Linked DNA regions of Homo sapiens. Each later gene encodes a partner of the first gene's protein in a complex. Each region holds a gene or a part of one and is shown in the gene's direction. Other genes may lie near its edges.

Evidence for each region.
Region 2: SARNP (region 1) and THOC2 share a complex: the UniProt entries of both Homo sapiens proteins name them as parts of the transcription/export (TREX) complex.
Region 3: SARNP (region 1) and THOC3 share a complex: the UniProt entries of both Homo sapiens proteins name them as parts of the transcription/export (TREX) complex.

What each region holds. Positions count from the first base shown.
Region 1 is NC_000012.12:55,800,708-55,807,812, reverse strand, and holds part of SARNP (SAP domain-containing ribonucleoprotein), read left to right. Parts: intron 1-4,084; coding exon 4,085-4,184; intron 4,185-6,912; coding exon 6,913-6,959; intron 6,960-7,105. UniProt on the Homo sapiens protein: Binds both single-stranded and double-stranded DNA with higher affinity for the single-stranded form. Specifically binds to scaffold/matrix attachment region DNA. Also binds single-stranded RNA. Enhances RNA unwinding activity of DDX39A.
Region 2 is NC_000023.11:123,618,053-123,625,052, reverse strand, and holds part of THOC2 (THO complex subunit 2), read left to right. Parts: intron 1-383; coding exon 384-512; intron 513-861; coding exon 862-993; intron 994-1,081; coding exon 1,082-1,266; intron 1,267-1,343; coding exon of another isoform or gene 1,344-1,409; intron 1,410-1,769; coding exon 1,770-1,948; intron 1,949-2,192; coding exon 2,193-2,295; intron 2,296-3,465; coding exon 3,466-3,896; intron 3,897-4,087; coding exon 4,088-4,146; exon of another isoform or gene 4,147-4,865; intron 4,866-5,535; coding exon of another isoform or gene 5,536-5,616; coding exon 5,617-5,652; intron 5,653-7,000. UniProt on the Homo sapiens protein: Component of the THO subcomplex of the TREX complex which is thought to couple mRNA transcription, processing and nuclear export, and which specifically associates with spliced mRNA and not with unspliced pre-mRNA.
Region 3 is NC_000005.10:175,965,316-175,972,761, reverse strand, and holds the start of THOC3 (THO complex subunit 3), read left to right. Parts: upstream 1-4,446; 5' UTR 4,447-4,553; coding exon 4,554-4,820; intron 4,821-5,494; coding exon 5,495-5,651; intron 5,652-7,446. UniProt on the Homo sapiens protein: Component of the THO subcomplex of the TREX complex which is thought to couple mRNA transcription, processing and nuclear export, and which specifically associates with spliced mRNA and not with unspliced pre-mRNA.

The sequences.
Region 1 (7,105 bases):
AGACAAAGTCTCGCTCTGTCACCCCGGTGGAAGTACAGTGGCACGATCTCGGCTCACTGCAAGCTCCGCCTCCCGGGTTCACGCCGTTCTCCTGCCTCAGCCTCCTGAGGAGCTGGGACTACAGGCGCCCGCCACCGCGCCCGGCTAATTTTTTTTTTTTTTTTTTGTATTTTTAGTAGAGACGGGGTTTCACCGTGCTAGCCAGGATGGTCTCTATCTCCTGACCTCATGATCCGCCTGCCTCGGCCTCTCAAAGTGCTGGGATTACAGGAGTGAGCCACCACGCCCGACCAAAAATTTTTTTTAATAGAGATGGCATCTCATGGTGTTTCCCAGGCTGGTCTCTAACTTCTGGATTCAGGCAATCCTCCCGCCTTGGCCTCACAAGGGGCTGGAATTGTAAGCATAAGCCACCAAGATCAAGATTGTTACTTAATAAATGGACATTAAAGATCACTTATAATGTTACTTAAGGCGTGGTTCACAGTCCTTGGGGTGCTGGTCCATGAACTAGCTGTTCCTGGTTAGTAGTGAGATAAATACAAAAACCGAGTGTAAGCTTTTAGAAAGTTTTATAGCAGTTTGATGTCACTGCTATATCCAAGTCACTACGCTCATTTTTGTAGTAATTGATTTTTATTGTTATTGCGAAAGTATTGCTCCGTGACCTGATTGGAATATTGTAAAAAGCAACCTTATCAGCCTACCTATTTAAAAGTACATTGAGCTGGGCACAGTGGTGTGTACCTGTAGTCCCAGCTGGAGGTTCGGGTGGGAGGATTTCTTGAGTTCAAGAGTTTAAGTTCAGCCCGGGCAACATGGCGAGACCACTGTCTCTAAAAATAAATAAAATAAAAAATGCATTGATTTGTGAAACTCTCAAATCTGAGACCAGTGATTTAGTACTTAATAAATATAAAGCATTTTTTGGCTGTCAAGCACTGTTCTAAATGCTTTATAAAATTCTTGATTTAAGGCCGGGCGCGGTGGCTCATGCCTGTAATCCCAACACTTTGGGAGGCGGAGGCAGGTGGATCACAAGGTCAGGAGTTCGAGACCAGCCTGGCCAATATGGTGAAACCCCGTCTCTACTAAAAATACAAAAATTAGCTGGACATGGTGGCATGCGCCTGTAGTCCCAGCTAATCGGGAGGCAGAGGTTGCAGTGAGCTGAGGTCGTGCCATTGCACTCCAGCATGGGTGATAGAGCGAGACTCCGTCTCAAGAAATTTTTTTTTTCCTTTAATTTATGGTTCACACCTGTAATCCCAGAACTTTGGGAGACCAAGGCAGGTGGATCACTTGAGGTCAGGAGTTTGAGACCAGCCTAGTCAACATGGTAAAACCCTGCTTCTAGTAAAAATACAAAAATTAGCCAGGCATGGTGGCACATGCCTATAATCCCAGCTACTCAGGAGGCTGAGGCAGGACAGTTGCTTGAACCTGGAACGCAGAGGTTGCAGTGAGCCGAGATCATGCCACTGTACTCCAGCCAGGGCACCAGAGCAAGACTCCGTCTCAAAAAAAAAAAAAAAAATTTTTTTTAATTTAGTCTTCATAACAACCCTATGAAATAGGTACTGTTATCATTCCCATTTCACAAGTAAGGAAACTGAGGCATAGAGAGGTGAAGTTATTCACATAAGGTTACAAGTAGTAAAACTGGAATTCAAACCTAAGTAGTCTGGCTTCAGAGGCTATGCTCTCCAGTCACTCTGCAGTCATTTTTTTTTTTAAAACTGGCAAAAGCCTTAAAAATAATTTTTTTTTTTTTTGAGACAGAATTTTGTTCTTGGCATCCAGGCTGGAGCGCAATGATGTGATCTCGGCTCACTGCAACCTCTGCGTCCCAGGTTCAAGCTGTTCTCCTGCCTCAGCCTCCTCAATAGCTGGGATTACAGGCATGTGCCACCATGCCTGGCTAGTTTTGTATTTTATATTTTTATTTTTATTTTTATTTATTTTTTTGAGACAGTCTCACTCTTTCACCTGCTGGAGTGCAATGGCACGATTTTGGCTCACTGCAACCTCCGCCTCCCAGGTTTAAGCAATTCTTTTGTCTCAGCCTCCTGAATAGCTGGGTGAATATAAGCACCTGCCACCATGCCCAGCTAATATTTGTATTTTTAGTAGAGACAGGGTTTCACCGTGTTGGCCAGGCTGGTCTTGAACTCCTGACTTCAGTTGATCTGCCTGCCTAGGCCCCCCAAAGTGCTGGGATTACAGGCGTGAGCCACCGCACCTGGTCTAGTTTTGTAGTTTTAGTAGAGACAGGGTTTCACCATGTTAGCTAGGCTGCTGTTGAACTCCTGACCTCAGATGATCTGCCCGCCTTGGCCTCCCAGAGTGCTGGGATAACAGGCGTGAGCCACTGTCCCTGGCCTAAAAATAATTTTTAATGGGTGATTACCTACCATGTTCCTCAGTAGAGGTTGCTTTCAGCTTGTTGGGTTGGGCAGTTCTGTTCATAGCATCCCTGCCTGCCCGCCCCACTCACTAAATGCTTTGCTAGTCGTTGTAATATGTTTTATTTATTTTATTTATTTATTTTTGAGACGGAGTCTCGCACTTTCGCCCAGGCTGGAGTGTAGTGGTCGATCTCAGCTCGCTGCAAGTTCCGCCTCCAGGGTTCACGCCATTCTTCTGCCTCAGCCTCCCGAGTAGCTGGGACTACAGGCGCCTGCCACCACGCCTGGCTAATTTTTGTATTTTTAGTAGAGACGGGGTTTCACTGTGTTAGCCAGGATGGTCTCGATCTTCTAACCTTGTGATCCACTCGCCTCGGCCTCCCAAAGTGCTGGGATTACAGGCGTGAGCCACCGCGCCCGGCCATTGTGATATGTTTTAAAAAACTCTCCACTTTTCATTATGAAATGTTCTCCTAGCTGAAAAACGTAGAGATGCAGAGCATCCTCCATAGTTGTAAAATTTTTTGTCTATAGGAGTCTGCCTTCTAGCTTCTACTGATTGGTCATAGATCTGTACTCCAAAACAAAAAAGGTCATCTTTCAGACCAAAGATCTATCTGTGTGTTGATCTGCATATAGAATTTCTGGAGCCTTTCTTTCCTGCTTGTTCTCCTGGGTCAGCATGTCGTTGTGCTTCGTAAAATAAGAGTATAGAGCCCAGTAAGGCCATTACATCGTTTATTATGGAGTCTATATTTCAGTTACCTATGACTTATAGGTAGCAAATCATACTGTTAACCTTCTTTGCCTAAAATTCTGATGTCTTTATCCTTTGAGTTACTATTGAGCCAATCCTCCCTTACCCAGTTTTTATATAACTGAAGTTTTGAATCTAAGTGTAGGAAGTTATATGTATACCTTATTCCTACTAAATTGAGTCTTTGTTTTGGCTTATTATTAGTCCTGAAGAAGTGTTTTTTTTTTTTTCTGTTTCCGTGTTGCATTTTTTAAGCTTAGTTATGTCAATAATCCATCAATTCTCCTTCCTCCTATTGTCTGTAAAATTGATGAACATAGCTTTTATATCTTTAGATAAGTTAAATCTTCAGCAGAACTCTATGGTATGCCATTAGATATTTCTTCCCATTTTGACACAGATCCTTTAATCAATTCATTGTTCACATTAGCTAATGCATCTACCTAATTCTATGGTGGTTAGACCTGTATGCATGTATATGGTAGATTGTAATAACGGATCTGGGATAATAAGTGGTAAGGAGAATCTGCTTTTAGATCATTGGATTTTCTACTTGAAGGTTCATTCTTCCAATATGCTGGCTGCCACAGTAGTCTTAAGAAAAAAACCTTTTTCCCCCCTCAGAATATTTAGAAATAACTAGAGATTTGTGACAGTTAGTAGGTATACAAATAGATGAGGTTTTTTATTAAAGTGTGATGTTTATTCTTCAGCATCTGTTAGGCAGTTCCTCTTGTATATTGAATATCGTTAGAGGAAAATGGATCATCTTTGTGGACCTAGAGCCTTGGTAGAATTAAGGGCAGTAATTTGGGATGGAACTTCATTTTCTTTTTTTCTTTTCCTTGTGGGAACTACCATTTTATTCACTGGTGTTCATCCTGTTAACTAAGGAAAAGTTTTATTTTTTTCCCCTCAGCTTGCCGAACTAAAGCAAGAATGTCTTGCTCGTGGTTTGGAGACCAAGGGAATAAAGCAAGATCTTATCCACAGACTCCAGGCATATCTTGAAGAACATGGTGAGTACTTTGTGGAGGCGGAGTGATGTGAGTGAGGGGATTTTCAGGCTTTGACACTGAAAAGATTTCTTTTTTTTTTTTCAGGTCATTAGCAATGTAAGCTCTTAATTAACGGCATCAAGAAAACTCTCTCTTTTTTTTTTTTGAGATGGAGTCTTGCTCTGTTGCCCAGGCTGGAGTGCAGTGACGCAGTTTCAGCTCATTGCAACCTCTGTCTCCCGGCTTCAACCAATTCTCCTGTCTCAGCCTCCCAAGCAGCTGGGACTACAGGCGAGCACCACCATGCCTGGCTGATTTTTGTATTTTTAGTAGAGACGGGGTTTCACCATATTGGTTGGGCTGGTCTAGAATTCCTGACCTCAGGTGAGCCACCCGCCTCAGCCTCCCAAAGTGCTGGGATTACAGTTGTGAGCCACCGCGCCCAGCCATCTTGTACAACCTACATCTTAGGTTGTACAAGTCCTCTATCTAATTTTTATTTACGTATTCCCTTTTATTTCTATTCCTCATTTCACTTTCTCCCCAACCCATTTAGGCACCCGTTCTAATGTGTTTGAATGTATTTTTTTGGTGTTTTTCCTGGTAAACTATGTAGTGTTGTTTTGTAGAATGTTTTCATTTATATAATTGGTAATTACATAACTGGCCATAGCCTTGCTTTATTTCTCATTTTTTTCACTAAGTATTGTGTTTTTTTTTTTTTAAAGATGCGTCCATGTGGAATGTGACTGTGTAGTTATCTAGTCTGTTGATTCTAATTCCTGCATAGCATTCAATGATGGATAACCACACATTTTACTTAATTCACTCGGTGACAGAAAATTTTATTGCCACCAAGCCTCTGCTACTATAAGTGATACTACTTATAGTATACTATATGTATATAATAGTATATAGTATATATTATACTATGGGTTGAGTGTTATATATTTGAAATGCTTGGGACTAGAAGTGTTTCAGATTTTAGTTTTTTCGGATTTTGGAATATTTGTGTATATATATAATGAGATATCTTGGGGGTGAGATCCAAGCCTAAACACAAAATTTATTTGTTTCTTATCCACATATCTGAAAGTAGTTTTATACAGTATTTAAAATAATTTTGTACATGAAACAAAGTTTTGACTGTGACCCATTGCATGAGGTTAGGTGTGGGGTTTTCCACTTGTATCATATCAGCCTTCAGAAAGTTTTAGATTTAGGAGCATTTTAGGTTTTGAATTTTCAGATTGGTGATGCTTAACCTGTAGGATATAGTATACTATATCCTATATACTAATAGTATATAGTATATTATTATGAACTACTTATTTTATGCTCTTATGTTCCTGTGAAAGTCTTTTTGGGGTATATGCCCAAGAATGGTATTGCTAATTAATATTCATAAATATATACTTAATGTGACTAAGGACTCCCAAATTATTTTCCAGAATTGCTCTGTAGATCTGCAGTCTCATTACTAGTACATAAGGGTTCTTGTATCTTCACAAACCTAAACTTGGCACTGTCCTATCAAGTGGCCTAAGTTTTGCTAATTTGTTGGCTGTTTTATGTTCTCCATGAAAAAAGTTTAAACATTTCACAATTCTTTGGGTTTCTTCTTTGCCCATTTTTCTGTTGAGGTTCCCATAATTTGCCTGTTGGCTTGCAGGCATTTCTTTTATATTCTAATAACTATTGTTTTGTTGATTTTAGGCACAAATATCTTCTTTGGCTGTGCGGGGTGGTTCATGCCTGTAACTCAGCACTTTGGGAGGCTAAGGTGGTATGATCTCTTGAGGCCCGGAGTTTGAGACCAGTCTGGGCAGCATAGTGAGATCCCATCTCTAAGAAAAATAATAAAATTAGCTGGGTGTGGTGATGTGCACCTGTAGTCCTACCTACTTGGGAGGCTAAGGCAGGAGGATCCCTTGAGCCCAGGAGGGGGAGGCTGCAGGGAGCTGTGATTGTGCCATTGCACTTTATCTGGGCGACAGAGTAAGACTCTGTCTCAACAAAAACAAATGTCTTGTCATTTGTCTTTTAAGTTTCTTTGTGCTATCCTTAAGTAGAAGTACTTAGTTTTGAAAAATCTTCAATTTTTCACCTCTTACTTTTGGTTCTGGGTTGTTTTTCTTTTAAACAAATCTTTCCCCACCACTAAATCTCAAAGATACTTTTCCACATACTTTTTTTGTTTGTTATTCAAGACTGGGTCTTGCTCTGTCACCCAGGCTGGAGTGCAGTGACATGATCTCAGCTCACTGCAGCCTCTGCCTTCTGGGTTCAAGTAATGTTCCCACTTCAGCCTCCCCAGTAGCTAAGACTATAGGCGCACACCCCCACACCCAGCTAATTTTTTTATGTTTTTTGTAAAGACGGGGTTTCGCTGTGTTCCCCAAGCTGGTCGCTTGAACTCCTAGGTTCAAACGATCCACCTGCCTCTGCCTCCCAGATTGCTGGGATTACAGAGAGCCACGGTGCCTGGCCCAACATTACTTTTAAAATTAATTCTCTAGTTTGACTTCACATTTAGTTCTTCAGTCCAACTGGAGTTCACATTTGTAATTAATGTTAGGTAGAAATCTGGTTTTATCTTCTCCAGATGTAGCAGATTTTATGTGCATCAGTTTCTGCCTTCACTGTTGGATTTTTTGGGGGAAAGCAAAGTGATTATAATTTTAACCTTGGTAAGTGATCAAGATGGTTTTGTAGCAGGGCTTGACCTGAATATTTTAATATTCTTTAGCTGAAGAGGAGGCAAATGAAGAAGATGTACTGGGAGATGAAACAGAGGTGAGTTGGATAGAGTAAGGTTAGTCTCTGGTAATGTGCCACTGCTTTGGCCACATTGCTTTAACATCAGTCATTGGAGGACTTAGATGTAAATTTATTAGGGGAGCATAAGATGGGTATGAAGGTTCTGAGAGACTGGTTTATTT
Region 2 (7,000 bases), on another chromosome or scaffold:
ATTTTTAATTTCTATCAGCATTTCCTCTGCTTACTCTCCCCGTAAACCCAGTAATATGTATGGCTAAGTGGTTAAGAAACTATTATGTAATAAAAAAAAAACAACTTATTATGTAATAATAATGATAAATTTTTTTTTCCTTGTCACTGTAAATCAGCTTTCTTTATAAAAGTTCTTGTTTTGGGTGGTTGTTTTATGAATGCATTATTTCCCCACAAAAGCCAAAATCTCCAAAGTTCTCTGCAGTGTCATTATATAAAGGGAATATACATTTTGACTAGGCTTACCTGTTTATTATGACTTGCTGTAAGAGAATCTTCTAATATTTTTAACTGATTTTGACCTTGATTTGTTTATATTTTTTAAACATTTTTCTCCTGTAGGTTTTCTCTGACATAATTTACACAGTTGCAAGCTGTACTGAAAATGAAGCCAGTCGATACGGAAGGTTTCTTTGCTGCATGTTAGAGACTGTGACCAGGTGGCATAGTGATAGAGCCACATATGAAAAGGTATGACTAATAAAAACCCTTATATTTTACCCATGTATATAATGACCACATCCATTAATATCTAGATAGTTGAGTTTTAAAAGAGAAGCTGAGTTTAAGATTCAGTTGTAAAACTGTGTTTATAAGCACAATTAATTTGTTATTAAAATGTGCTATGTACTTTTTTATTCTATCTCAAACTGACATTCCAAATTAGTATCTTTGTATAAGTTGAACTTTTTGTGACTACCTATCCAAATACGCATGATGTTTTTACACGGAAACATTGATCTAGTCTACTTAAGTTTCAATTTCTGCTATTTTGTGGATCATAATTTTTCTTTAAAAGTGACAAACATTGTTTCCTTAGGAATGTGGAAACTATCCAGGATTCCTTACCATATTACGGGCAACTGGATTTGATGGTGGAAATAAGGCTGATCAATTAGACTATGAAAATTTTCGACATGTTGTACATAAATGGCATTACAAACTAACCAAGGTAAAAAAAAAATTGGATTTTTCAAAGGCAAATTTTTCTCTGTATACTTGTGCTTTTATAATAATGGATCTGAAAATGTTTGTTGTAGGCATCGGTACATTGCCTTGAAACAGGCGAATATACTCACATCAGGAATATCTTGATTGTGCTAACAAAAATACTTCCTTGGTACCCAAAAGTTTTGAATCTGGGTCAAGCTTTGGAAAGAAGAGTACACAAAATCTGCCAAGAAGAAAAAGAGAAGAGGCCAGATCTATATGCATTGGCTATGGGGTAACAAAATTATATTTTAATGTGATTTACAAGACTAGATGACAGAAGGATTCTGAAGACTTTAAAATGTTTTACAGTGTTGAAGTTTATCTTCTGCCTTCAGGAGATTATGGGAGATTATGCGATCATGTTTCCACAGGCTGGTGAGAGTTACCACTTCTGATTATCAACTTCCGGTCTATACTGGATGATAGTTTTTTTAAAGTCATGTATAATATTTCTTGATTGGGAGGAAATATAATTTTATCATCATAGTTAACAGATCTTCAAGAGTAAAAAAAAAAAGCCATCTTAGTTTAAGGATTAGTTTATAGTGAAATTGTAATTTTTAAGAAAGCTGGGCGTTCTATAAAAACCTTCAAGAACTTATTAAAAATTGGTATTTTTTAATTCTCTAGAACCACATAGTAGAATGAATAACTTGCTAATTTTATTCTTAAAAACCTCATGTTTATGTTTTTTGATTTGTGTTTGTATATTTAAACACTTTGTGCGACTTTCAGCTACTCTGGGCAGTTGAAAAGTAGAAAGTCATACATGATACCTGAAAATGAGTTTCATCACAAAGACCCCCCTCCGAGGAATGCAGTTGCCAGTGTGCAAAATGGGCCTGGTGGTGGGCCTTCTTCATCATCAATAGGAAGTGCATCTAAATCGGATGAAAGCAGTACTGAGGAGACTGGTATGCTTATTTGTAGAAACTTATAAGTAATATATTTTATTTCAACAAAGTGAAATGTTTTGTATCACAGAACGAGTACAATGCTGGCTTAGTATTACTTTTTATTCCCTAGATAGGAGTATATAAGCGTTAAGAAGTAATCAGCTTGCTGTTTCTTTCTAATTATTCTCTAATCATTTTGCTCTGAAATTGTAGCTTATTTACATTTAGGGGCTTGTTAAATAAAACCTTACTTTTATTTCAGATAAATCAAGGGAGAGATCTCAGTGTGGTGTGAAAGCTGTTAATAAAGCTTCTAGTACCACACCTAAAGGGAATTCAAGCAATGGAAATAGTGGCTCTAACAGGTAGGAACACTGTGCCATGTGTCATAATTCTAAATTCTTTTTAAAAATGATTTTTATGTATTTTTTTGAGACGGGGTTGGTCTTGCAATGTTGCCCAGGCTGGTCTCGAACTTCTGGCCTCAAGCGATCCACCTGCCTTGGCTTTCCACACTGCTGGAATTAGAGGCATGAGCCACTGCACCTGGCCCTCATAATTCTAAATTCTTCTATGAGTCCTCATGAGTAGAAGGGGAGTGGTTGTTGAGTAATGTGAAAAGTCATTTATGTTGGGCTTTGAAATTTTGTATGTACCCTATTTTGCTGATACGCTTTACATCCTAATTATGTTTTGTATAGTTATGCTTGTATAACGACTTTGTTTCTCCTTCTGGGATATTCAGGGGAATGTAGGTGTGAAGTTAAACAAATATTTTAGGATAGAGGGATTGCTGTGGGTTGAAGCGATTCTTGTGCTTCAGCCTCCCTAGTAGCTGGGATTACAAGCGTGTGCCACCACTCCCGGCTAATTTTTTGTGTGTTTTTAGTAGAGACAGGGTTTTGCCATGTTGACCAGGCTGGTCTCAAACTCCTGGCCTCACGTGATTTGCCTGCTTTGGCCTCCCAAAGTGCTGGATTATAGGTGTGAGCCACCGTGCCCGGCTAATACATCTTTTAAATCTGCAATTAATGAATTTGTTTATGATTTACTGGATAAAGAAATACTTCCTTTTTTCGAGAAGGAGTCTTGCTCTGTCACCCAGGCTGGAGTGCAGTGGTGTGATTTTGGCTCACTGCAACCTCTGCCTCCCAGGTTCAAGTGATTCTCTTGCCTCAGCCTCCAGAGTAGCTGGGATTACAGGTGCCCGCCACCATGCGCAGCTAAGTTTTTTGTATTTTTAGTAGAGACGGGGTTTCACCATGTTGACCAGGCTGGTCTCGAACTCCTGACCTCAAGTGATCCACCCTCCTCAGCCTCCCAGAGTGCTGGGATTACAGGCGTGAGCCACTGCACCCGACCATTACTTCTTCCTTTTTCCTTGTCTTAAAGTTGTCCTTTAGTTTTCAAAGGACTCCCCCTTAGTTCTAGTATTTTTGAAGTTAGTAAGAAACCCTTTATGATATATTTTATCATATATCAAAGGATATATTTTATGATTATTTGTGTTAAAATCCCATGTTTTTATTCTTAAGCAACAAAGCTGTTAAAGAAAATGACAAAGAAAAAGGGAAAGAGAAAGAAAAAGAGAAAAAAGAAAAGACTCCAGCTACTACTCCAGAGGCCAGGGTACTTGGTAAAGATGGTAAAGAAAAACCAAAGGAAGAGCGGCCAAATAAAGATGAAAAAGCAAGAGAGACCAAGGAAAGAACGCCGAAGTCTGACAAAGAGAAAGAAAAATTCAAGAAGGAAGAAAAAGCTAAAGATGAGAAATTTAAGACCACTGTCCCCAACGCAGAATCAAAATCAACTCAAGAAAGGGAAAGAGAGAAGGAGCCATCCAGAGAAAGAGATATAGCAAAGGAAATGAAATCAAAGGAAAATGTTAAAGGAGGAGAAAAAACACCAGTTTCTGGGTCCTTGAAATCACCTGTTCCCAGATCAGATATTCCAGAGCCTGAAAGGGGCAAGTTTACCTTTCTTTATACGTTCTTACGTTTTGTTATTTTAATGTATAGTTGGTTATTGTCTCCTTGTTTTGGTAAGTTATATAGGGGTTTTGCTAGGGGAACTTGTCATACAAGTTGGTGTTTTTTTTTAAGTGTTTGGAAAACTAGAAATGTACCTTATTCTGACTATTTCTTTTTGTCTTAACAGAACAAAAACGCCGCAAAATTGATACTCACCCTTCTCCATCACATTCCTCCACAGTAAAGGTTAGTATAGCCTGAGGAAGGCAGCGTCCATGTTAGGCTCACCTGTTTGGAATACCAGTGTCCTGACTTCCTTCAAGTCTTATGCCAAGCATTCACTGGAGCCACTGGAGGTTTTATATTGCATTAGAAAATGAATTTTTCTATATTGGTGGACTGATTTTTTTTCCTATTGAGTATTTTTATTATAAAAATGTTAAAACTTCAAGGACTTAGCACTAATTTTGTAGTGTTTCAAAGTGCAAGAGAAATTTTACCCAGAAGTGCCTCAACTGCTTTAAGCAGTCTTTTTTGGAGTGCAATGGTAGCTACAAGCAAACGAATCTTTTCAGCAGAATGAAGCCTATTTTTCAGCATATTGAAGAATATATAGCACTGAAGACTTCCTGGATGACACAAGATAAACAAGTTACCTCTGAATTCAAGCTTCTTGATGAGCATCATACCGATGTGTGCCTTCTAAGAAGGAGTCTTGAAAGGAGTTCCATTTTAAAGTCTCCTTGGTGATCAGTTCTCCTGTAGTTGTGTATATTCAGTGAGCATGCAGCTTCTGTTGTATCTTCCCTTGGAGGTTTGTTTATACCCATTGGGTTCCCAACAAGTTGAACCTTGCGTTACGATAAAAGCAGATGTGGCATCCAATCCTACCACCCAGCAAAGAGAAACCCCAGGCATTCAACTGCAGCACAAAATCGTGGGTGTAGCCTTCTTGAAGACTCAGGGTAGCCATTCCTTGCTCCATATTTAATTTTAATTCTAAAGTCATCTAATTTCATGGAATCTTTGAATTTGCAGTACGTTGAACTTTTAAAAAACTGTAAGTTATTAATTGTTCATCAAGAGCACTGTGGTGGAATATCGTAGTTGATTTCTTTTTCTTTCTTTTTTTTTAATGCTTTCTTTGTGTGTGGGAGGTGTGAGATTCACCATGATAGGCACTTTGCAGAAAAAAAAAGTGATTACTCTTATATATTTTGTTTTCTTGTTAATACAATGCCACTGAATTTTTCAGCTAGGATGTGTATATTCATATTAGAGTTAAAAATAAAGTAAAATGTGAATCCTCCCAATTAAAGAAGAACTATGAAAAATATAAGGCAATGTTGTTCTTCCACAGTGACCTCCAGTATTTTAAATTTTTTGTGGAGAAAAAAATGTTTTGCTTTCTTAAACCTCTTAACTATAGCTTAAGTAGAGAGATATGAACAATGTGGCATTGACATTTATTTTTAAATTCTGAGCAGAGAAAGATTTTTATTTCTTACATTGAGTACATTTAATTTAGTTTTTAACATTCCAATTCCATTACATGTTTTTTTTTATTGTTGATATTCATATTGATAATGACATCATGAAATTTATCCTCACAAGAAGTAGCTGGTTTATTTCCAGGTTACAGCCATACTTCCCAAAGTTCCTCTGGGTTCTGAGAACTATGCCAGCTCACCTGTCATCTCCATTCATTTTCTACAGGACAGTCTCATCGAACTCAAGGAATCTTCAGCAAAGGTTTGAGTCTTTTAAAATCATCATGCCTAAGTAAACCAAATGTTCTTTACTTATTTTATTTAGTAGATGTCCTCACCCTAGTACATTCAGTAAGCTGAGATCAGTGGGATAAAGTACTCTGCTTACATTGAATAACCTTCAAAAATATTAAATGTTAAAACTGAAACAACAGATGACAGTGGTCCCTTTTAATGAGATTGTTATAAAATGTGTGTAATGTGGCAACATTTCTATCATCTCTCCTTGCTTGCTGTGTTATACCTTCTCCTTTTATGCTTTTTCAAAATCTGGAAATAAGTTTAACATTCGGGGAAGAGGTTATTTGATTGTTTTGGGTTTATTTAATTTTTCAAAACAAATCTGCCAGGCTGTCTGACTGTTTAGACAACCCAAAATACCAAAAAATAAATTTGATGCATTCACATATCTGTTTTAAAAATGGAACTCATCTCAATCTATAAAAATTCTTTATATATCCTCTGCTGAGGTACCTTTTTGGTAGTTACAGCACAATATCAGGAGATACTGTTAATGTGAAAGAATCATTCCCCTGGACAGGAATACTCGGTGGTTGTGTTTACATGTCAGTATTAATTCTTACCTATTATTCTACTTTCTTGAGTATTCTGCTACTAAAAGTAGTGTGCAGTTTGTGTATCTTATTACAGAGTTTATTTCAGTATTATACTTGAATTGTCCATTGTTCATGTTGTTTTGTCTTTGTTATAAAACGTGTACCCTTCTTTGATTTTCTACTTTGCCTCCTCTTACAAGCTACAAGCAAATGAATCTGCTCAGCAGAATGAAGCCTATTTTTCAGCATAAATATTGCTTGCCATGATTAAAATAGAAATCAGCTAAGCATGATTTCTTTACTGGTGGACCAAATGAAATTTTGAAACAGAGCCAGTTGACATTACTAACTGCTTTTAGATGTATAGATTTATAATGAAATGTCTGTGGATATTGGGCAAATAAGGCACTAATTTTTAAGTTTATATTAGCCAGTGTACCTGTGTCCTAAAATTGTAGCATTGTTTTTTAGAATATACTATATTAATCAAAAGTCTCAGCTATGCTGGGAGAAGTTCCATTTAGTTTTATTTTTTTTCTGATTTGAATGGATGTTTTATTTGAAGTAGATATCGGGGTTATTCTGTAATACGCTATTGAAGAACAAGCCGAAATAACACATTAGACACAACATCAACCTAATGACATTATTTTTGAAAATTCTAAACGTCCAACGTATTTTTGTTTTTTTGCTGTTAGCCATAACGTCACAATACTAACAGAGTTCTCCATACCTAGTAGGAGTTACAAAAATGTTGATATCAGGTTGGAATTA
Region 3 (7,446 bases), on another chromosome or scaffold:
TTTCCCCTGTCCCTCTACACATCCTGTCATCTCTGGCATTACTATTTATGGCCTGATTCTGCCTTGAATGACCCTGAAGTCCCCAAGACTCACATGTGTAAAAAATTTCTTAGTTTGATTTTGATCAGCTCCTAAGAGAGAATTTCTAGGTGAGAGAAGGAACTGTAAAAACGGTCCATCAACTGCATTCTTCAAAAATGTTGATGTCATAATAGGCACAGAAATGCTGGGGAACCTTTATAGATTCAAGGAGACTAAGGACATATAATAACTAAATATAGTATGAGGTTCTAGACTGGAACATGTACTGAAAGAAAAGAAGGGCTATAAAGAACATTTCTGGCTAAATTGACACAAATGAAATACAGACAGTAGATTAAATAAAATTCCATGTTTCTGTTCAATTTACCAACATCGATAACTATACTGGGGGTAGGAAACAGAACATCCTATTTCTTAGGAAATACTGAAATATTTAGGGGTAAAGGGTAAGATGTATGCAACTTACAATGTGATATGTCTTGGATTTGTGTCCCTGAGAAAATTTCCAATTGTAAACCCCAGTGTTGGAGGAGGGGCCTGGTGAGAGGTGACTGGATCATCGGAGCGAATTTCCCCCTTGCTGTTCTCGTTACAGTGACTGAGTTCTTATGACATCTGGCTGTTTAAAAGTATGTGGCACCTCCCTGTCTCTCTGTTTCCTGAGACGTGCCCAGCCATGCTTCCTGTACAGCCTATGGAACCACGAGCCAATTAAACCTCTTTTTTTTTTTTTTTTTTTTTTGAGACAGCTTTTTGCTCTGTAGCCCAGGCTGGAGTGCAGTGGTGCAATCTAGGCTCACTGCAAGCTCCGCCTCCCGGGTTCACGCCATTCTCCTGCCTCAGCCTTCCAAGTAGCTGGGACTACAGGCGCCCGCCACCACGCCTGGCTAATTTTATTATATTTTAAGTAGAGACGAGGTTTCATCATCTTGGCCAGGCTGGTCTTGAACTCCTGACCTCGTGATCCACCCGCCTTGACCTCCCAAAGTGCTGGAATTACAGGTGTGAGCCACCGCGCCTGGCCCAATTAAACCTCTTTTCTTTATAAATTACCCAGTCTCAGGTAGTTCCCTATAGCAATGTGAGAACGGACTAATGCACAATTGCCAAATGTTTAGACAAAAGAGTAGTAACGTAGATATATGTAGAGAAAGCAAATGGAGGCTGGGCACAGTGACTCAGGCCTGTAATCTCAGCACTTTGGGAGGCCAAGGCGGGTGAGGCCAGGAGTTTGAGACCAGCCTGGCCAACATGGAGAAACTCCATTTCTACAAAACATACAAAAAATTAGCGGGTGTGGGGGTGCATGCCTGTAATCCCAGCTACTCAGGTGGCTGAGACATGAGAATCGCTTGAACCTGGGAAGCGGAGGTTGCAGTGAGCCAAGATCGCGCCACTGCACTCCAGCCTGGGTGACAGAGTAAGACTGTGTCTCAAAAAAATAAATAAATAAAAATAAAACTAAAAAAAGAAAAAAAGTGGAACAAAATGCTACAATTTGGTGAATCTGTGTCACAGGAATAGCAGTGCTTTTTAGTATTCTTGCAACTTTTCTGTAAATTTGAATTTTTCCAAATAAAAAGTTTTAAAAAATGGCCCATGACTCTGTTCCCCTCAATTTTATCTCCCCTTTGAGAGACTCTGACTTCAGTCTCAACATTGCCCCCAGATGTGTGCTAGTCCAACTTGAAATGTTATACCAGTTTCTGTCTCAGGCAAGAGCAGTCGGATATACTTATCACAACTGAGTTTCTAACATCCATGTATACAGAATATAGAAAAGGAACACAAGGGGAAATTAAGTAAAAAACATACATTACAGGCCGGGCGCGGTGGCTCATGCCTGTAATCCCAGCACTTTGGGAGGCAGAGACGGGTGGATCACCTGACATCAGGAGTTCGAGACCAGCCTGGCCAGCATAGCGAAACCCCATCTCAACCGAAAATACAAAAAATTAGCCAGGCATGGTGGCGGTGCTTGTAATCCCAGCTACTCGGGAGACTGAGGCAGAAGACTTGGTTGAACCTGGGAGGCGGAAGTTGCAGTGAGCCAAGATCGCACTGCACTCCAGCCTGGGCAATAGGAGCAAAACTTCATCTCAAAAAAAAATTAAAAAATAAAAAATATACATTACATACAAAAATACAAAATGAATGCAGAAATACAAAGAATCACATTTACGTGATTTCAGATACTGAGAATCAGAGTGTAGATTTTAGAGTCAGTAACATCTGAGTTCTAACCTTTGCTCTGTCACATGATAGTCATGTGACCTGGACCAGGACATTTTACCTCTTTCTACTTCAGTTTTTGTATCTTGGCAGGGACTTGTAAATCCTCAGTGTATGCAGCAAAAAAAAAAAAAAAAAAAAAAAAAAAATACAAAATACAGGGAAAATGTAGGAAAAATATCTAAATATATATATATATATGAAGATTCCTGAAAAAGAGGGGTAAGGAAGAAAACTAGACACCAAATAGTTTCCTACTCCAAGATTTTAGAGACTTCAGTGGTATTCTTGGAGTCTGAAAAGCTTTGTAGTTTCCAAGAATTTCTGGTTGCAATGGGGTAGGGAAAAGATTGGGGAAAGATAGGGACCTTATTTCCTACGGTCCTTCTGAGAGCCATATGCTTTATATGTGTACTCATTTAGTACCTAGGACCTTCTGACACTTTCTTATGTTGCTGGTGGAAGTATAAATTATTAAACCTCTTCATAGGTGTTTTGGCAATATATATCCAAATAAAAAAGTGCAGATGTGCACAATGAAGGTTGTATAGGGATATTCACTGCAATATTGTTCTAATATTGTTCTAAAAGCAAATTCATGAAGGGATCAGTTGAATATTATATATTCATATAAAGACTGCCACCATTGAGAAGAATGAGACGTCTGCATTTTCTGACAAGAAATGATTTCCTATACATATTTACCATAGGAAGCAAGTTGTGTAAGGAATGCTACCTTTTTGGCAGTGTGTTGGGAGAGGTTATGCACACACCTATCTACCTTGCCCAGGTGCTTACTTACACTGTCTCTGGAAGGCCACACAAGAAATTTAACTTTTTCAGAAGAGAAGTTTGGGGACACAGGATGGAGGGAAGCTTTTCAATCTATTCCCTTTTATACATTTTACATTTGTTACCAAGTGCACGTGTTGCCTTTTAAAAATTGGGTTTTTAAACACATTTACCACTACTACTCACCACCAAAACCTTCCCCCCTCAGCTCTTCTCCAGGGCCTTGACTGGCGCTGGCAGCTCACCACCCCTTTTTTCTCCAGCAAGAAGCCACTGGTTTAAGGGAGATATGAGAGGTGGGGTGGATACGCAGGTGGACATTTACTTTTCACTCTATATCTTTTATTTTTATATTTACAATCATGTGCATGTAATACTGTTACAGGAAAAGGGTCCCAATCCAGACCCCAGGAGTGGGTTCTTGGATCTCACTCAGGAAAGAATTCAGGGCAAGTCCGCAGTGCAAAGTGAAAGCAAGTTTATTAAGAAAGTAAAGGGAATAAAAGAATGGCCACTCCATAGACAGAGCAGCCCCGAGGGCCGCTGGTTGCGCATTTTTATGGTTTTTCCTGATGATATGCTAAACAAGTGGTGGATTATTCATGCCTCCCTTTTTTAGACCGTATAGGGTAACTTCCTGACATTGCCATGGCATTTACAAACTGTCCTGGCACTGGTGGGAGTGTAGAGGTGAGGATGACCAGAGGTCACTCTCATCGCCATTTTGGTTTTGGTGGGTTTTGGCCGGTTCCTTTACTGCAACCTGTTTTATCATCAAGGTCTTTATGACCTGTATTTTGTGCTGACCTCCTATTTCATCCTGTGATTAGAATGCCTTAACAGTCTGGGAATGCAGCCCAGTAGGTTTAAGCCTCATTTTACCCAGTTCCTATTTAAGATAGAGTTGCTCTGGTTCACACGCCTCTGCCATTACCTTTTAAAAACAAAAAATCCATTTTTATTTAAAAAAAAAAAACAAAACCTCCAGACCCCTTCTTAACACCTCTTCCCTCACTCCACACCCGCTAGCCCTTTTCATGGGACAAGCTCACCAGCTGGTCCTTCTCCAGCAAAAAGACCAGAGCTTTCTGCTCTTAAGGGAGGGGACTAGGGATTACGGAACAACCCCAGAAGAAAGGTGATGAGTTAACTGTTTAGAAGGTTAGTGTTGGTTCTTTTATTCGATTAAACAGGAATACACATATATCTACCAAAGAATAGGTAAGGGAGAAATAAGAACACTAAAAAAACTCGGAATCGTTAAGTGTGAAGCATATTTGGAGTTAAAAGAACCAAATATTACTAAGTAAGCAGACGCGGGCACGCGCTGCATACCGGGATTTGTAGTCCCTTCCGGGGCGGGGTACAGCGCGCCTGCGCAGAGGGGCCGTCGCTCTTCCGGGCGCATGCGTGCGGCAGCGGCGCCAGGACTGACTGCGCCGTGGAGGCTGCTGCAGTGTTGTGAGTTGGAAGCTGGGGAGCTCGGCATGGCGGTCCCCGCTGCAGCCATGGGGCCCTCGGCGTTGGGCCAGAGCGGCCCCGGCTCGATGGCCCCGTGGTGCTCAGTGAGCAGCGGCCCGTCGCGCTACGTGCTTGGGATGCAGGAGCTGTTCCGGGGCCACAGCAAGACGCGCGAGTTCCTGGCGCACAGCGCCAAGGTGCACTCGGTGGCCTGGAGTTGCGACGGGCGTCGCCTAGCCTCGGGGTCCTTCGACAAGACGGCCAGCGTCTTCTTGCTGGAGAAGGACCGGTTGGTGAGCTGCCGGGGCTCGGCTCAGGCTAGGGAGAGGGGCCGTGGTGAAGTGAGGTGCGGTAGTGGGAGAGCGAATGGGGGCGAACGGAGCCGCGGGGGTGAAAGGAGAGTGGGTTTGAGGGAAGGGGAAAGGGGGAGTGTGGAGATGAGGAGGGAGTAGGGAGAAGGTGGAGTGTGGGGGTGACGGGGTCGTGAGGGGTGAGGAGAGGAAGACTGGGGGCGTGTGAAGAGTGTGGAAGTAAGGAGGTTGGCGATGGCGGGTGAAGGTGAGGAGAGGGTGGATGGGACAGGGCTGCGATGGGAGCCTTACTGGTTTGGAGTCGAATCCTGTGCTGATAAGAAGTGGCTAGGGGCTGTGGTGGTGGTGGTGGTGGTGGTGGTGGTACGTTGGTGGTGGTACGTTGGTGGTACGTTGGTGGTAGAGTAAGGGTGGAAAACCAGGAAGGAGGAGAAGGCCAGGGAGGGCACAAAAGTAAGGGCATAGGTGTGGAAGCTGAGAAAAACAGTTCAGAAGGCCTGCGGAGAAGAGAAGGGAGAAAGGGCTTGGAGGAACTGGATTCTGAATTACCCAGATCTTTACTGGTCCCAGCATACTTTGGTTTGAATAAGCTTATAAAGTTACATGCGGAGGCAGTTACATCTATGTGAAGTCACATCTGGATTCTGTTCTTTCAGGTCAAAGAAAACAATTATCGGGGACATGGGGATAGTGTGGACCAGCTTTGTTGGCATCCAAGTAATCCTGACCTATTTGTTACGGCGTCCGGAGATAAAACCATTCGCATCTGGGATGTGAGGACTACAAAATGCATTGCCACTGTGAACACTAAAGGTGACTATTCAGAGAGAGGGCAATAGGAAGATAAGCTGTTTGGATTCATTCAACAACCATTTTCCGAATATCTTTTCTGTGCTTGGCACTCAGCTGTGTATGAGACATCCTGAGCTGAATAAGAGTTTCCAGCTCCAAGGACCTCCCCTGCGGGGAGAAGACATATATATACAAATAACATAGCAAGATATGGTTCATTTTATAATGGAGAGGTCTGCAAGGTGGATACCCAGAATAGAAATGAAAACAAAAGTCTGCCTAGGGGAGCCAGGGAAGGCCTCACCAAATTTGAGCAAACTTTTAGGGTAGCCATAGGAGTTGAGTGGTCAGGGTGCTGTGGGTGGGGAATGGGACATTTCCAGGAGGGAACGGCATGTGCAAAGGCATGGAGAATTTGGAAAATTCTGATGAGTTAGAATGGTTGAAACTTGGATGGTCTTGGTGATCTGGGAGAAAGTTGTGCAGTACATTTATAGGCTCTGTTGTAAGTATTGAGGCCGATATTGTATGGGACTCTGAGTTTTCATTGATCGTAAGATGTTCCATTAGGAAAGAAAGTTGGTAAATAACTGTGATACACCCAAAATTTTGAAATGCTTTCTGATACATTTTAAGATACAGTGTAGATACTAAAATGTGAGAAAATATGCGTTTTAGAATGGAAAAAGTTGGTGAGATTTTTAATTGATGTGTTCAGTGTGGGCCACTGGACTTTGTTGACAAGACTTATCTCTGGAGGCGGAATGGTGTGGTTTTTCCCCAAGTATACAGCTGCTGATCCATGAGTGATTCAGGTGATGCGTGGGTGAACATTAAAAACCAGTTTTGCAAATATCTTAATGTCTACTAGAAGAACTAGCACATAGAATTTATTATTCAGTTGAAGCTAAATTTATTTTATTTTTATTTATTTTATTTTATTTTTATTTTTGAGACAGGGTCTTGCCCTGTTACCCAGGATGGAGTACAGTGGCACAATATTGGCTCCCTGCAGCCTCCACCTGGGCTCAAGCCATCCTCTCACCTCAACCTCCTGAGTAGCTGGGACTACAGGCACATGCCACCATGCCTGGCTAATTTTTTGTAGAGACGGGTTTTGCCATATTGCCCAGGCTGATCTTGAACTCCTGGACTCAAGTGATCTGCCTACCTTGGCCTCCCAAAGTGCTGGAATTACAGGCTTGAGCCTCCACAGCTGGCTGCTAAATTTATTTAAGTAAACTTTTTTGAATCAATTTTAAGAAAAATCTTGAATAAAGAAAAGTATAGTGTTTAATGGATAGGACAAAAATTGTGATGTTGGCATGCGAATGGCTGGAGTTGAGAAATGCTGGTGTAAGAGAAAAGGGGGCTTTGGGGTCAAATCTGGGTTTAAAATCTTGGCTTGGCCGGGCACGGTGGCTCACGCCTGTAATCCCAGCACTTTGGGAGGCCGAGGCGGGCGGATCACGAGGTCAGGAGATCGAGACCATCCTGGCTAACACGGTGAAACCCCGTCTCTACTAAAAATACAAAAAAATTAGCCTGGTGTGGTGGCAGGCGCCTGTAGTCCCAGCTACTCGGGAGGCTGAGGCGAGAGAATGGCGTGAACCCAGGAGGTGGAGCTTGCAGTGAGCCGAGATTGCGCCACTTCATAGCTCTGTGACTTCATAGCTTTGACACTTTGGCTTGTCGTCTTATCTCCTATTTCCTTCATCTATAAAATCTTATAGATTTTATAAATGGAGATAATAAAGTGTATGTTAGAGGAGTATTGTGAAGACCAAATGGGGAAATGTGTAGATGAAAGTTCTGG